Homo sapiens: one gene and its partners. The protein of the gene in region 3 purifies or fractionates together with the protein of the main gene of each other region. This does not show direct contact. Each region holds a gene or a part of one and is shown on either strand. Other genes may lie near its edges.

Evidence for each region.
Region 1: the proteins of LURAP1L (region 3) and ARHGEF2 purify together in Homo sapiens (affinity purification with mass spectrometry; one large-scale study listed by BioGRID and IntAct). This does not show direct contact.
Region 2: the proteins of LURAP1L (region 3) and CDC42BPA purify together in Homo sapiens (affinity purification with mass spectrometry; 3 studies listed by BioGRID and IntAct, with this or other methods). This does not show direct contact.
Region 4: the proteins of LURAP1L (region 3) and KLHL13 purify together in Homo sapiens (affinity purification with mass spectrometry; one large-scale study listed by BioGRID and IntAct). This does not show direct contact.

Annotation. Positions count from the first base shown.
Region 1 is NC_000001.11:155,972,048-155,975,547, reverse strand, and holds part of ARHGEF2 (rho guanine nucleotide exchange factor 2), read left to right. Parts: intron 1-3,500. UniProt on the Homo sapiens protein: Activates Rho-GTPases by promoting the exchange of GDP for GTP.
Region 2 is NC_000001.11:227,140,493-227,143,992, forward strand, and holds part of CDC42BPA (serine/threonine-protein kinase MRCK alpha), read right to left. Parts: intron 2,533-3,500; coding exon 2,453-2,532; intron 1-2,452. UniProt on the Homo sapiens protein: Serine/threonine-protein kinase which is an important downstream effector of CDC42 and plays a role in the regulation of cytoskeleton reorganization and cell migration. Regulates actin cytoskeletal reorganization via phosphorylation of PPP1R12C and MYL9/MLC2.
Region 3 is NC_000009.12:12,773,843-12,777,819, reverse strand, and holds the start of LURAP1L (leucine rich adaptor protein 1-like), read right to left. Parts: upstream 2,801-3,977; 5' UTR 2,105-2,800; coding exon 1,793-2,104; intron 621-1,792; coding exon of another isoform or gene 591-620; exon of another isoform or gene 242-590; intron 1-241.
Region 4 is NC_000023.11:117,917,811-117,921,310, forward strand, and holds part of KLHL13 (kelch-like protein 13), read right to left. Parts: intron 2,561-3,500; coding exon 2,428-2,560; intron 1,908-2,427; coding exon 1,711-1,907; intron 1-1,710. UniProt on the Homo sapiens protein: Substrate-specific adapter of a BCR (BTB-CUL3-RBX1) E3 ubiquitin-protein ligase complex required for mitotic progression and cytokinesis.

The sequences.
Region 1 (3,500 bases), on a different chromosome or scaffold from region 3:
GAGGCTTCTGGGGACATAGACAAAAATTCTAGGGGTCGTGGAGGTTAGGGAGAGAGTTGAGGGGGAGGGGAGAAGTGAGGATAGGGGAAGGGAGTCTAAAGCTTAGGGAAGTCACTGAGTGACTTGCAGGAGGTTAGATGGGGCCTAGAGAAGGACCTACTGAGGCCGACCAGAGGAGTTACAGTGGGGTCTGATCTTAGCCACTCTGGCTGTGGAATTTGACCTTGGAATCAAGGAGGGGACAGATGTGAATGTGTGCATCCCCTGTGTGCATGTTACTGGTGTGCTGGTGTGTCAGTGTGTCTGTCTGCCTGCCTGCCCTCCTATTCTGTACCCAGATGCTCTGGGCTACTGTTTTGAACAGTGGTCAGCAAAGTAGGGGGTTCGTGCTCTCTGGCCACGAGGAAGTAGCTTCATCCTTAGCTTCAGTTTCTGGTTGGAAATATCATCTAGGAGCTGAGTGAGCGGATTGGTTAGGATTTCTGAAGCTGGTAAGAGAAAAGGCTGAGAGGAGCTGGCTGGACCCTTCCGGGTTTGTTTATGTCTCTTTGGGAGAGGGTGGGGGTGGGGTTGCAGGCAGCAGCTGCCCCCCTCCCAACCCAGCCGGCCTGCCTTGTGCCAGGAGGGCAGGGAGTCCTGGCACAGCTATTGTTCACTTGCACAAATGCCTGTCTGTTTGCATCGCTTACCCCCCCTCTCTTTCTGCTTGTCTCTCTCTCCTGGCCTGACAGGTGTGGCCGCGTAGGGGGCAGGCTGGGTTCCAGGATGCTTGGGTCTCAGGGTCCCTAACCTGATTTATTCCTTGTGGCCCTTAGCAATCCTCTTCCGTTTCACCCGTACCCACTCCCATTGCCAGTGTCTCATCTTCATTCACTAAGCAAGCATTTATTAAGTGCCTTTGTGTGTGCAGTGATGTCTTTCTGTGTTGTTTCTGGCTTTGGCATTAGTGTTTCCACTTGGCTGCCTTCCCCTCTGCCTCCTGTCTTCATCTTGTCCCTGGAAGCTCATAAAGGAGCAGGGCCCGGCTGAGACCACCCCAAGCCCTCTTCTCAGTCCCACCCCCAGCAATCCCTCACCTCTTCATTTCCCAGCCCTATAGCTCCTCCTCCAGGACTCAGTGCCCTTCATAGCCAACGGCGCCTCTGCTGTACAGGGGCTGAGCCACAGGTGACTCGAATCCTGGTGGAATGCTCCACAGGCTCTCCGGTCACTATTACAGAGGGTGTGGACAGAGGTGTCACCATCTTGGGGAAGGGGCTGCTGCCAGGTACAGCTGGAGGAGAGGTGATTCTGAGTACTCTGTGACTCTCCCAGAAGTCTTGATTTGGACATACCTGAGAGAGAAGCAAAGGCAGCTGAGAGAGCTGGGCACAGTGGCTCGCACCTGTAATCCTAGCATTTTGGAAGACCAAGGCAGCTGGATCGCATGAGCTCAGGAATTTGAGACAAGCCTGGGCAACATAGTGAGACCTCATCTCTACAAAAACATTAAGTTTTTAAAATCTATTATTAAAAAAAAAAAAGTCAGATGAGAGCTTAGGGCTTGCTTGGAGAAGCTCTACCTCGCCTGGGTGGATCTGCCTGGCCTTGCTGCCTGCTGGGAGCCCAGGAAGCCAAAGTCCTAGCCTTGGCATTGCCTTCCCCTCCATGTACGTCACTGTTTCCTCATCCCTTATTCTGGGAGACAAAGTGGAGAGAAGAGGGGAGACTGTGTTTGCCTTTGAGCTTTTCAGTAGAGATCCACAATGCCCTCTGCCATTGCTCCCATCTTTCTTTCTTTTTTCTTTTCTTTTTTTTTTTTTGAGACAGAGTCTCGCTCTGTCACCCAGGCTGGAGTGCAGTGGCATGATCTTGGCTCACTGCAACCTCCACCTCCTGCGTTCAAGCAATTCTCCTGCCTCAGCCTCCTGAGTAGTTGGGATTACAGGTGCCCACCACCATACCCGGCCAATTTTTGTATTTTTAGTAGAGATGGGGTTTTGCCATGTTGGCCAGGCTGGTCTCAAACTCCTGATCTCAAGTGATCTGCCCGCCTCGGCCTCTCAAAGTGTTAGGATTATAGGCATGAGCCACTGCGCTCGGCCTGGCCCTGTCTTTCTTTCCCAAAAGTGACTGAGATCTGGGATGACAGTGGAAGGAAGTTTGGGGTTGGTCTTCTGACTTCCAGAGGAAACCCTCAGGGTCTAAACTCAAAGGAAATAGGAGAGAATGGCTTAGAGCCCTTCAGGAGGAGGGAGAAAAGAGAAACAAGAAGAGACAGAAGGTTCTAAAGCTCTGATAAGGAAGGAAGAGGGTTTCCAGAATAGGGGCCAGGGTGCTACTGAGACCCCATGTCTTGGTGTCCATACATCCTTCCTTGCTTCTTTGCTTCCTTCCTTTTCTTTCATTTTGAGACATGTATTGGGTGCCTATTGTATACCAGGTATTGTGCTAAGGGCTTTCATATTCTTTATTTATCCTTGATGTAGCAGTAGTGTGGATGAAGGTGTGTAGCAAGAAGAACTTCCCATGGGATTTGTGAGAAAGAGACAGAATGACTCTAGGTCTGAGCGTGGTGGCTCACACCTATAATTCTAGCACTTTGGGGAGGCTGGGGCAGGAGGATCACTTGATCCTAGGAGTTCGAGACCAGCCTGGGCAACATAGCAAGACGCTGTCTCTACAAAAAAAATTTAAAAATTAGGTGAGCATCATGATGCATGCCTGTGGTCCCAGCTATTTGGAGGGCTGAGGTGGAAGGATCACTTGAGCCCGGGAGGTCAAGGCTGCGGTGAGCCATGATCATGCCAATGTACTCCAGTCCAGGCAACAGAGTGAGACCCTGTCTCAAAAAAAAAAAGAAAAAAAAAAGTATCTAGATGCTGGAGAGCAAAGGACTGAACCAAGCAGGAAGGGCCTCTGAGCACTGGGGTGGGTGTTATGGATTGTGGAGTAATGGGCCCTTTTTCTTGGTGCATAGGTTGGGTCTTGGAGGTAAAGGGCTGTCCTACTTGGGCGTGGGTAAATGGGAGACCAATGTGATTATCTTAAGAATACCTGGAAAAGAGTAGGACAAAGAACCAAACAAGCCCACTCACTCCACCTCTGGAGCAGGCACCCCTGGTAAGCAGGCCCTATGTCCTTCCATCCTCAGAAGCCTGAGCCCTGGGGCGGGCACAGGCAACCTCCGGGACAATAGCACTAGGCAGTGCCAGGGTCGCTTGCTGCTGGGCAGTGCCCATGCTGGGATGTGCTGCTGCTGTGGCTGCTGCCCGCTGCTGGCCCACCTAGAGCAGGGGTCACTTCGAGAGAGGGTGAGTGTTGGGAGGTGGAGGAGGCAGGGCCCAGAGTACCAGGGCTGTCTGTGGAGCATTGATGCCAGAGAGAGGAAGGGCCACTAGAGACCCTGTTCTCTGGCTGCCCCAGTCTTCTCCCTCCCTTTGCCACTCCATCTGAGCTGGTCAGACAGATGAGTGTTTGTGGATGCCACAGGGGGAGGGTGGAGGGCAAAGGACAGAGGT
Region 2 (3,500 bases), on a different chromosome or scaffold from region 3:
TGAAACAGAAGTACTAAAGCCCCGAGACAAGAGTATGTCTGGCATGTTCACAGCCCAGAAAGGAGGCCTGTGTGGATGGAGTTGAGTAAACAAGGAAAAATAAACTCAGAAAGATAAAAGTAAGGCAGTCATGTAGGGCCTTGTAAGAAGTTTGATTTGGAGTTAAAATATGAAGCCACTGGAGTTGGGGATGGGTGGACTGGTTCTGAACAGGGGAGTGACATGTTCTGATTATCTTTTAAGAGGATCACCTGAACAGGATCAGAGAACTAAAAGAAAGTTATTTACATAGTAAGTGGGTGGTTAAGACAGATTTTTAAGTAGACGAGAGGAGAGGTCTCAGTTGGAGATGCACGTTTAGGAGTCATCAGCAAATCTTTGGGAGAACACTACAGAGTTTAGATGGAAAAGAGAAGTCCAAAGACTGAGCCATAGGACACTCTGATATTAACAAGCCAGGGAAATCAGGAGGGATCAGGTATGGAGACTGAGAAGGAATGACCAGCAAGGTGAGAGAAACTCAGTCAAGTGCCCTAGAAGACAGGAGAAGGTGGTATTTTAAAAGTATGGAGCTGTGGCAAATAAGATGAGACTAAGCAAATAAGTAAGACTAGGACTGACAAGTGATCATTAGATTTAGCAACATGTTGGTCAACAGTGACATCGATAAAAGTAGTTTGCATGAAGTGATGGGGGCACACACCTGACTGGAATGGATTCAAGAAACAACAGTATGAGAAACATAAACAAAATATAGTCAACAGTTGAAGTAAATTTTCTATAATGTAAAGCAGAGACATGGTTGATAAGAGGTAAAGGAAGAGGAATCCAGATTTTATATTTTGCATTAAGATGGAGAACTGACATTTGTAAGCTGATAGAAATGATCTGATGATGCAGATGACACAAGAAGAAAAAAATTCATGACATGAAAGCAAAACATGCACTAGACTAGCCAGGAAGGGATGGAAGATACTGGCCTTACTAGAGGCTTGCACAGTTCATCCATGAAAAGAACAGAGAATTTGGGTCTAACAGTAAGTAGGCGGTAAATATGGTAACTGGAGCTTGTGGAAGTTGTCTGCGGTTTGCCTCAATCCTTTCAGTGAAAGGAGATGCAAGCTGAAAGTGAGGATGACAGAGGTTTCAAACTCAAGTAGAAAGAAATAGGCCAGATGCAGTGGCTCACATCTGTAATCCCAGCAACAGGGGAGGTTAAGGCCAGAGGACGGCTTGAGGAGTAGGAGGCTGTAGTTATCTATGACTGTGCCACTGCACTCCAGCCTAGACAGCACAGCAAGACTCCATTTCTAAATCGTTTTAAAAATTAGCTGGGCATGGTGGCTTGTGCCTATTGTCCCAGCTACTCAGGAGGCTGAGGCAGGGGGATCATTTGTGCCCAGGAGTCTGAGGCTATAGTGAGCTAGGACTGCACCACTGCATTCCAGCCCTTCTGCTGCCCAGAACAAGACCCCATCTCTTAAAAAAAAAGAAAGTAAAAAATAGTTACTAGGTGAGTGGAAGAGTGAATATACTAGGGTAATACAGTACATTTGTCAGACAAGGGGGACTTGAGGTTGGTAATCATGAATTTAAAGTAGACCAGTAAGAATAGTCAGCTATTTTTTCTAGTCATTTGGAACTGTACAGGTAGAGAATAAAATTGTAATAGTTAATGTTCACTTAGCAAAACAAATATAACAGAATGAGAGACAGTCAAAGGAACTGAAATGGCATACAAGGAGTGATTATAATCATTCTCAATGGAATTTAAACAGGGTAAGGGGGAAATAGGGAATATAAGTGAAGTGAGGGTCAGTGAAAGGATGGTAGAATTAATGGGTTGAAAGTTCTCCTGCTTGACATCTAGAGAATATTCAACAGCGTGAAACTCTTCTAATTACTGCTTCATTGGTAAGGATTAGATTCTGAGCTCTCTGTTCCATTCTTTCCCCTCCAAAACGAGTTAAGATTTTCATGCGTTCTATTCATTTTGTAATGCTTAACTTTCTATTTCCAGCAGTAGGCTCACTCTATTTTTTAAAAAGTTTTAATTCACAAAGTTTTCTCATACATCTTTTACGAACCTCAATTCAATTTAATTTGCTTTAAATTGTCCAAACTATGTTAACTTTTTTTTTTTTTAAGACAGAGTCTCGCTCTGTCACCCAGGCTGCACTGCAATGGCGCAGTCTCGGCTCACTGCAACCTCCACCTCCCAGGTTCAAGTGATTCTCCTGCCTCGGCCTCCCGAGTAGCTGGGATTACAGGCACCTGCCACCACGCCCACCTAAGTTTTGTATTTTTAGTAGAGATGGGGTTTCACCATATTGGCCAGGCTGGTCTCGATCTCCTGACCTCATGATACACCTGTCTTGGCCTCCCAAAGTGTTGGGATTACAGGCGTGAGCCACTGCACTTGGCCCAAACTATGTTAACTTTTCAAACTTACCAGCTACTAGTATATGTAAAACCAACAAATGGCAGATGGTGGCCAGAAAATGCAGTATGTGTTGGTGGGGGCATCGTTTCCTAAAGGAGGAAAAAACATCTGGTAAGAAATAGATAGCTATATGATCTGTAGGCTTGGCTATAAATATAAAATGCCAAAAAGAAATATTTAAAAAAAAATTGTGACTGTTCAATTTTAAAACACTGGTAAGTTTGGTATAGTTGTTTAGTGATATAAAATTTAGACCATGAACACTGCTACTCTAAAATTCTAATTAAAGTAAAATGAAGATTCAAAGTCTGATATTGAGAATACAGTCATTATTATTCATGTATTCTGTATTTGCAAATTTGTGTAGAAGCTAATATTTATTTGTAAACCCCAAATCAATACTTGTGGTAATTTTATGATCATTTGTAGACACGTGCAGAGCAGAGAAAAATTTGAGATGTCCTATGCTCACATTCCCAGCTGAGGTTGAACAGGAGAGGCTCTGCCTTCTCATTTAAGCTCTCATATTATAAACAAGTGTCCTCTACAGGGTCTCTTTGGTGTCATGCATTTCACATTTTTGGGCCCTCTGTATGTGATTCACTGCTTGCAAAGGCTCCCAAGCATAGTGCTGAAGCGCTGTCTAGTGTTCCTAGCGCCAGAGGACAGTGATGTGCCTTTATGGAGAAAATAATGTGCTAGAAAAGCTTCATTCAGGCACGAGTTACAGTGCTGCTGGTGGTGAGTTCAGTGGTGAGTTCAGTGTTAATGAATCAACAACATATGTTATATAAAGTGTCTTTAAAGAGAAGCACACATAAAACAAGACTATATATTGATCAGTTGATCAGAGGCTCACAGAAACCTAACCCTGTATTTCCCTCAGAGCAATGGTTCAATATTAGCTAACAGTGTTCAAGGCAACTATATAGAACATAACCTCCATGAATAATTAGGATCAACTGTACTATGTATTTAATTTGGAATGATTCATAATTTGTTAACAGTAAATATAATTCTATTTATAAAAAATTGGTAAGAGAAGTCAGTTTAATTA
Region 3 (3,977 bases):
AACTTGTGACTTCTCTACAGGACAACATGGTTGTGCATCCTAAGTGGAACGTAATTATTTTTGTCAGAAAATGATCTTCACATACATACCAATCATTCCTTGGGACAGGGTGGGGTTCATCGGTTTTTGGAAATGTTACTGTTTTCAAGTTATATATAAATACTCTAAATTGTGTCTGAGTGTCCAGCAAAATGACAGTATTATCTTTGATGTGCTATCAGTGAGCTACTGAGAAAGAAAATATGTTTCAACAAGATTTATTTATTAGATTAAGTGAATATATTAACATTCCATGGGTAAAATTACAGAAGACATGGTTAGGAATAAAATTTCCTCATCTCCTTGATGTCTTCGTCCCTCATATTAAGTCCTTAATTTGCAGAGTTAGCAACATTCTTAATTCCTTGTACAAGAAATTTTCTTGTGGAAAATAGTTTTACCTGTTAGTCTCCACACGTATGTCTGATCTTTGTGATACGGTATCAGGCATCCCCTGACCTGTTGGTTTGTCATCTTTTCCATTTTATCTTTTCATCTATTTTGCAAACTCATCAAGATGACTTCCACTTTCCAGCTTCTCCATTATGTACCTAAGGGTTGTCCTTAAATTTTTGTCCAACCTAAAAAATAACAATCACTAAATGATAGAACTCTATAATAACTAAACGATAGAATGATAGAAATAATTTCCAGCATTCCTGTCGGAGTGATAGAAATCTCCTAGCCTACTTTGAAGCAAATCAAAAGCAACTGTGAAGTTAATTTAATGAAATTATTTTCTCTTTTTGAGGCCCACTGTTGCAACTTTCCTTATCTCCAAGCTAGTAGAAAATGCTGTTGCTTTGTGGTCGTTTTTTTCAAAGGACTTAGGGAGGGATCATTTTCTCTAACCAGCTCATCAAATTCACAGAGGTCTACAGAAGTGAAGTGACGTGCCCAAGAGCTCATGGCAAGTAAATAGTGTCTTAGTCTAAATACTTCCAGAATGAGTATTCCTAGACCTTGTACTTATCTCATTGTCCTATGCTCAGGCAAACGTTTGCAAACAGCAGGGAAAACAACTGCAGATTGAGACTTGAGGGAGAAGGGTGGGAGATGGTCCTTAGCAGATCCCTGGGCCTGGGGATCACCTGCTCCCTGGGATCAAAATAGTGAAACAAGCTATTCATAAGTACATCAAGGACGAGTAGGCCATTGTTTTCAGAACCAGCTGTGGAGAATCTGCTCGACAGTGGCCTTGGAACAGCTGCGGCTGCTGCACCAAGAAGGGAGGGCAGGAGGGCGGAGCGGTACTGGTGGAAGGGTGAGCTAGGAGGAAAGGCTGCAAGGACCCTGCCACGCCACCTCCCGGCAAACCAGGAAGTATTTTTGCAGTAAGTGCATTGGACTGAGCCACCTTTTGAACCTACCCGAAGTGTTAACAGCGCACAGCAGGCCTTAGATGGGTGCAATAACTGCAAACTCTCAACGGGCTGGTGCCTAAGAGGCTACGGGCTGGCAGCTAAATAGAGCCCGGCGCAGTGAGTCGCGTTGTCCGAAAGTACACAGAGTGGAGCCAGCCGACTGTGCTGTCTTTGCAAACCGTGACCGAGCAAAGTCCGCGGTAAACAAGCCTCGCAGCAGCTGCCTCCGGATGAGCGCCCCCTGCTCATTCCTCCACCCAGCATTTCCCACGCGCCCAGCGCTCCGCTCTGCAGCCCCTGCCGTCCTCTCTCCCAGCCCCATTCTCAGATCGCCCCATCTTTTGGCCCAGCCCAGGTCCCAGCCCCCGCGGCTGGCGCACCACACTCACCATCTCTTGCCTGAGGAGGTGAAGCTTGGTTTCTAGCCTCTCCAGGGCGCTAGAGTGGCTACCTCGTGGGGAGCCAGAGGTTGGGGAGGACGAAGAGGAGGACGACAAGGAGGGAGGGAAGCTGCAGTAGCTGCTGCTGCTACTGCAGCCGCCGCCGCCGCCGCCACCACCACCGCTCCCCCCGCAGGGGTCCCTGTCCCTTTCCCTGGGAACCGGCTCCTCCCCACGGAGAGAGCGCACTAGACTCTCGGGTACTTTGCGCCCCAGCTTCAGCTCGATGTCTCTGAGGTCTGGCAGCGGGCTGTCTTCCATGACTTTTCCGGAACGGCGATAATAGTAATAAAACGCAGCAGATGAAAGGCAGCCACGGCTTCGAAGGCTGCTGCGAAATCAGCAGACCTCTCCGGGGGCCAGGGTCTCTATCCTCCGCCGCTCCGGTGTACCGTCCTTTCCATAACCGCCTATGCGGTATCAGCCCTGAAATCCGCACAGGACGCGGGGGGTCGCAGCTGCAGTTCCCAGTCCGCTGCGACTCCTCCGACACTAAGATGATCAAGATCTCCTCATTCTCTCTCTTTTTGGCCACCTCACTGCAAAGTTGAGTTCACTGATATTGCAGACAGAGGGGGAATAAAGAGGGGGAAGTAGTGAAAGAAAAGAGAGGGAAATTAAATCTGTTTTAGCTTTACCAAGGGAAAATTTTCACATTATAAAACCGTCCGTTCACATCCCTGCGCCGCTCACTGACTGCCCATCTGGTACTACGCGACACAAAATAATGATGCAGCCAGAAACGATGTCCTGGGTCGTTTCATTTTCCAGCCATATGCCTCCAAGCTTTCGGGATATCCTGGGTTGTCAGAAATAATCTCTGGTCAGTGAAAGAGGAGTTCGGTCGTGTGCATGGACCCATAAAAAAGAGCTAGTTAGCTTAGCAGGAGTTTAACGGCTTCCTTGATGCAGCAAAAATGTCCTTCTTCCCATTTAGGCTGTTTGATCCAAGTCATTGTGTTCCTCTGAGCCTCGGAAACTTTAAACTCCGCTGGCAGGTGGACCAAACCAGGACCAACCCTTCTACCGTATATCACAGACAAGAAGAGCAACCGGAATTTTCCCAACCCTGTCGCTAGTAGCAGAGTTTCAAAGCCCTGCTTTAGTTAGGAATACCAGTTGATTTTTCAGTTTTCCTGACTAGCTACAACCTTTAAAACAGGTTTTAAAATGAGAGATAGAGGAATGACTTTATATTTGGTGTCTTCGTTTCCCATCTCTCTACCTTCCTCAAAGGAAAAACAAACAGAAAACCTCTCTTTAGAAGACTTTCCTAATAATTTTATTCTAATAAAAAGAGTGAAACAATTTCATCAAAAGTTCAATGGAAATGTACAATCAAAATTAATTATCCTACCAACTGTTACAGTATGCAAACAAAAGTGAAAAATTAAATAGCCAGAATAACTTACATGACTGCTGAGATAGCAGTGAAATTTTAAGAACAAGCAATTGCTGAGATACTTACTTTTATTTTAATTATGGAAGAAAAAATATTGGGAATAACTATTTAAAATGTTGTCTTCTTTGATAATTTATCTATAAATTAATTTATAGATTTTTTCAACTATACAAATTGTACAATTAATTGTATAGTTGAACAATTGTACAATTTATTAATTTGTACAATTGTACAATTCATTAATCTGAAATACTTCTACCAAGTAAGTTATTATGAGCTACATGGATTACAGATCTGAATCAGCATTGAGTTTGTGTCAAAAATGTTTAAGTAGAGGATACTAATTTCAATCCAGTAAACTACAATTTTTGATTTCCATTGAAATATTTCAAAGTATGTGCCCCTCTATTTCTGTGACATATAAGTATTTGTGTTCCTGGTCACTCCGAGGCTCCATTTCCAGAGACATCATTCAGGTTTTACACTTGTAGGAACATAGGTATATACATCTCAGAGTTTGTTTTTATCATATCTGACTCTAGGAAACCTTATACGTAGAGGAAACATACGCATTCTAAATGAAATATTTCATGTCAGGGAAAAAATGCTGAACTTTCTATCAACATGCCAGAAATTTGCATGCTATTTCTCCCTTTTAAAAAGAAATGAAGAAAATAGTTATAAGTTAGATGACCCATTTCAAAGTTAGAACTACCACTTACAGAATCAAGG
Region 4 (3,500 bases), on a different chromosome or scaffold from region 3:
TTTCCTTAATTTGGCTCAGGATGACCATGTGTTGCTAAGATCAGTGTAAAGCAATGTTAAGAGTCTATAAGTACAAGCTTTAAGTGTTACTACTAAATTAAATTCTGGACTTGAGGCATTTTGAAAATCACATTCAATATGATTCATTTTTCCTTGAAATGAAGTTGTTATATCATGCCAGTGACACAACCAGAGGTGAGATCCTAATAGCTCTTGAGGGAATGGGCCTTGCATGATCAAATTTAAATAAAATTTAGCACCTAAATTCAGTAATGGAGGCAAGCAATAGCATGGGAATTAACCAACTTCACTTGGGCTACTTTCGCAATAAAGAAGACAATACAAGTCAACAATATAGCACCATGCTGCCATAAAAACCCTTAAAAGTAGCAATTAGTTCAAATTTTATAAGTAATTGTGAGACAGCAGTCTGAGTTTTCTAAAATCAAACATACAAAAAACACACTTTCAATAGGCCAGTTAAATTAGTTATTGGCTGACTTTTAAGATAGTTAAGTACCTTAATAATAAAATAATTAAGGACATGGCTCTCTTGAAACTTAGTGTTTTAAAGAAGGTTCCATGTTCAAAAAATGTAAGTTGTAAAGATCTAACAGCAATTATTTACCTATATTAAGATTCATATGAGTTAAAAAATTATAGAAAACATATCCATCAACATAATGAGTTAGAAAATATACCAAAAATTAATATTGCCAGAATTCTTAATCAGAAAAACAAGCTCCAAGACCTCTGGAAGTCTTGGCAATATTTCTGTCCAATGTAGCCATTTATCTCCCCAGAAGTAAAATTTAAAGGTCTCAACTAAAATAAAACACTCTCTTCAGGAACTGGGTGACTATCATTAAGTACTCCATCGATTGGTAGTTGTATGTGTCCTATCTTATCTATTAAAAAATGGCTAAACACTATTCAGTAGGTGATATGTTTCTATGGAATCAAGACTTACATTCTTACAGGTTTGCCCATAGGTATTAGTTCTTCTTAAGATCTAGCTCCCTTATTAAAAGAAGAAATTTTAAAGAGTTCTAGAAGCTCAGATTACTTTTCCATTCAATTACATTTAAGAAGCCTGCTTGTATAGTCATTAAGGTGAATAAAACCAGATTATGGTACATACCATTATCAAACAGTTAAAGTATATATCTTCATCAAACATTATTAGTATCTCATGTCATTTGATTACACAGAGGCTTTTTTTTTCTTCCTGAGATGGAGTCTCACTCTTGTTGCCCAGGCTGGAGTGCAATGGCGTGATCTCAGTTCGCCACAACCTCCACCTCCCAGGTTCAAGCGATTCTCCTGCCTCAGCCTCCCAAGTAGCTGGAATTACAGGCATGCACCACCATGCACAGCTAATTTTTGTATTTTTAGTAGAGACGGGCTTTCTCCATGTTGGTCAGGCTGGTCTTGAACTCCCAACCTTAGACGATCTGCCCGCCTCGGCCTCCCAAAGTGCTGGGATTACAGGCGTGAGCCACGATGCCCGGCCAACACAGAGGCTTTTATTAAATGATTCTATTTCATAAAAATGCACCTGTTTCAATCTCACCTTGCTTACAGACCACATACAACAAGACACATCTGTCTAATGGCAAGTTTCACATTCCTGCACAGCAGATTTCATGAGTCCTAAACAGGCTACATCAGAGTCTACCACAGGAAAAATCAGATTTCAAAATATCTTACCCCAGATATGAGAAACACTTTACAGAAGTCCAAAACTGGCAGAATCTGTAGGAAACTGGCAGCTTCCAGCGTGTCTTGAAGGTTGTCCATATTAAGAGAAAGCTTTGCAGTATAAATGAAATCAATAATTTTCCTTAGACCGACTTTGCTCACACCATGAAGTTTAATGCACATTAAATCTTGTTCTTTCATTCCACCTTAAATAAAAAGACATTCAATTAAATGAAGGTGGATAATTATGGTCAAACTCACTTCTGCTGCTAATTAGATGCAATAAAATCAAAGGAAAGTCTTATCTTATATAAGCAGTCATATTAGAGTCAGTCTGCTGCACATTTTACTGTTAAAAGAAAGTACTTAAAAAAGATAATCTCTATACTAATGGAGGTCATATATGATGCAAGTGCTTCCAAAATGTTCTCACTTCCTATTTTTTGACATAGAGTAGAGATTGTACTAGGAGGACACAGAGTCTCTGATGGCCCACTAGATATAAGCTTGAAAAAGAAAAGCTGTGAGATAAAGATGGACAGTATGAAAAAAGTGCATCAATTTTCCATGTTAAAACAGCACCACCGAAAACCATACATACTGTTGTGTACTTCTTTTGAAGCTGTTTCCAAAAGAACCAAATTTCATGTTAGAAATAAAAAAGATTTAAACACGGATTTTTCATATTGTTTTAATGTGGTTTCAGAGTTTTAAAAGGCAAACTACCTGTGAACATAGCCTTGAAGTAATCACTAGCAGATGCCATCATGACTCTATGCACAGGGAAAGCATCATCTGTGTCACCTGGCATCAGGGTCACATCACAAAGCAATCCTTCAAGTCGAAGCTGGTCAAAGCCCTACAACAAGAACATGAGTTGAGTCACTAATCAAGGTAAAATGAGGTTACAAATCTTCGTGTGCTAAAATTGTTTGAATATTAATGTGGTGCAACATATGTGGAACATAAAGCCAACAGAATATTCGGGAGAAGAAAAAATAACTGCACAACTTTCCTGATATGTGACAATGCATGTTTTCTTTCACTGTAGGAATAACACAAAATTAAGACTAATTTAGGTTAAAAACGATTAAGGAAAAAGTATATACTTTTGCTTATTTACACAATTATCAGCTTTTACCTTATTTTGAAAAATAATTACAATGTGCACTTCTACTTTCCCATCTGCAGAATGAGAGTATTAGACTGTCTTAACATTCCTTTTCGCGATAATTTAATAGTCCTTTTATAGTGCTTGACTGAAGCATCTTGGTTTTGTTTTGTTTTGGGGGAGGTTGAGAAAGAAAAGTAGAGAGCAACTGTATTAAGTACACGATAGTTCTTTCTACTAATTGTATTACTTCATCTCTTTGAGAAGCCTATACTCAGTACATTGCTGCTGCCTGGCCAAATATCTTTCAAGTTTCAAGTTTGAGACTTAATTATCTTTGTTTGAAAAAAAACAAAAAAAAGCCCAGGAAACCCCAACATGAGACTTAATTGTCTCCAAATGCCTAAAGGTTTAGTGGAGAATTAACAGGCTAGCAGCCACAATTCAGAGGAGTGACAGAGCTCTGGTGAGAAGAATCCTTGTTGATTAGCTTTTTCACTACACCCTGATGGTCTCAACTAACGACAAATAGACAGTTGTTCTATTGATATAAGTTGGAAGAATGACAATCACTTTTAAGATTATAACAGGTTGAATCTACAACATACACATATTTCAAAACATCATGTTTTTCAATTTTTATCTTTTATTTTTAATTTTTGTGGGTACAGAGATGTATGCTTTAGGG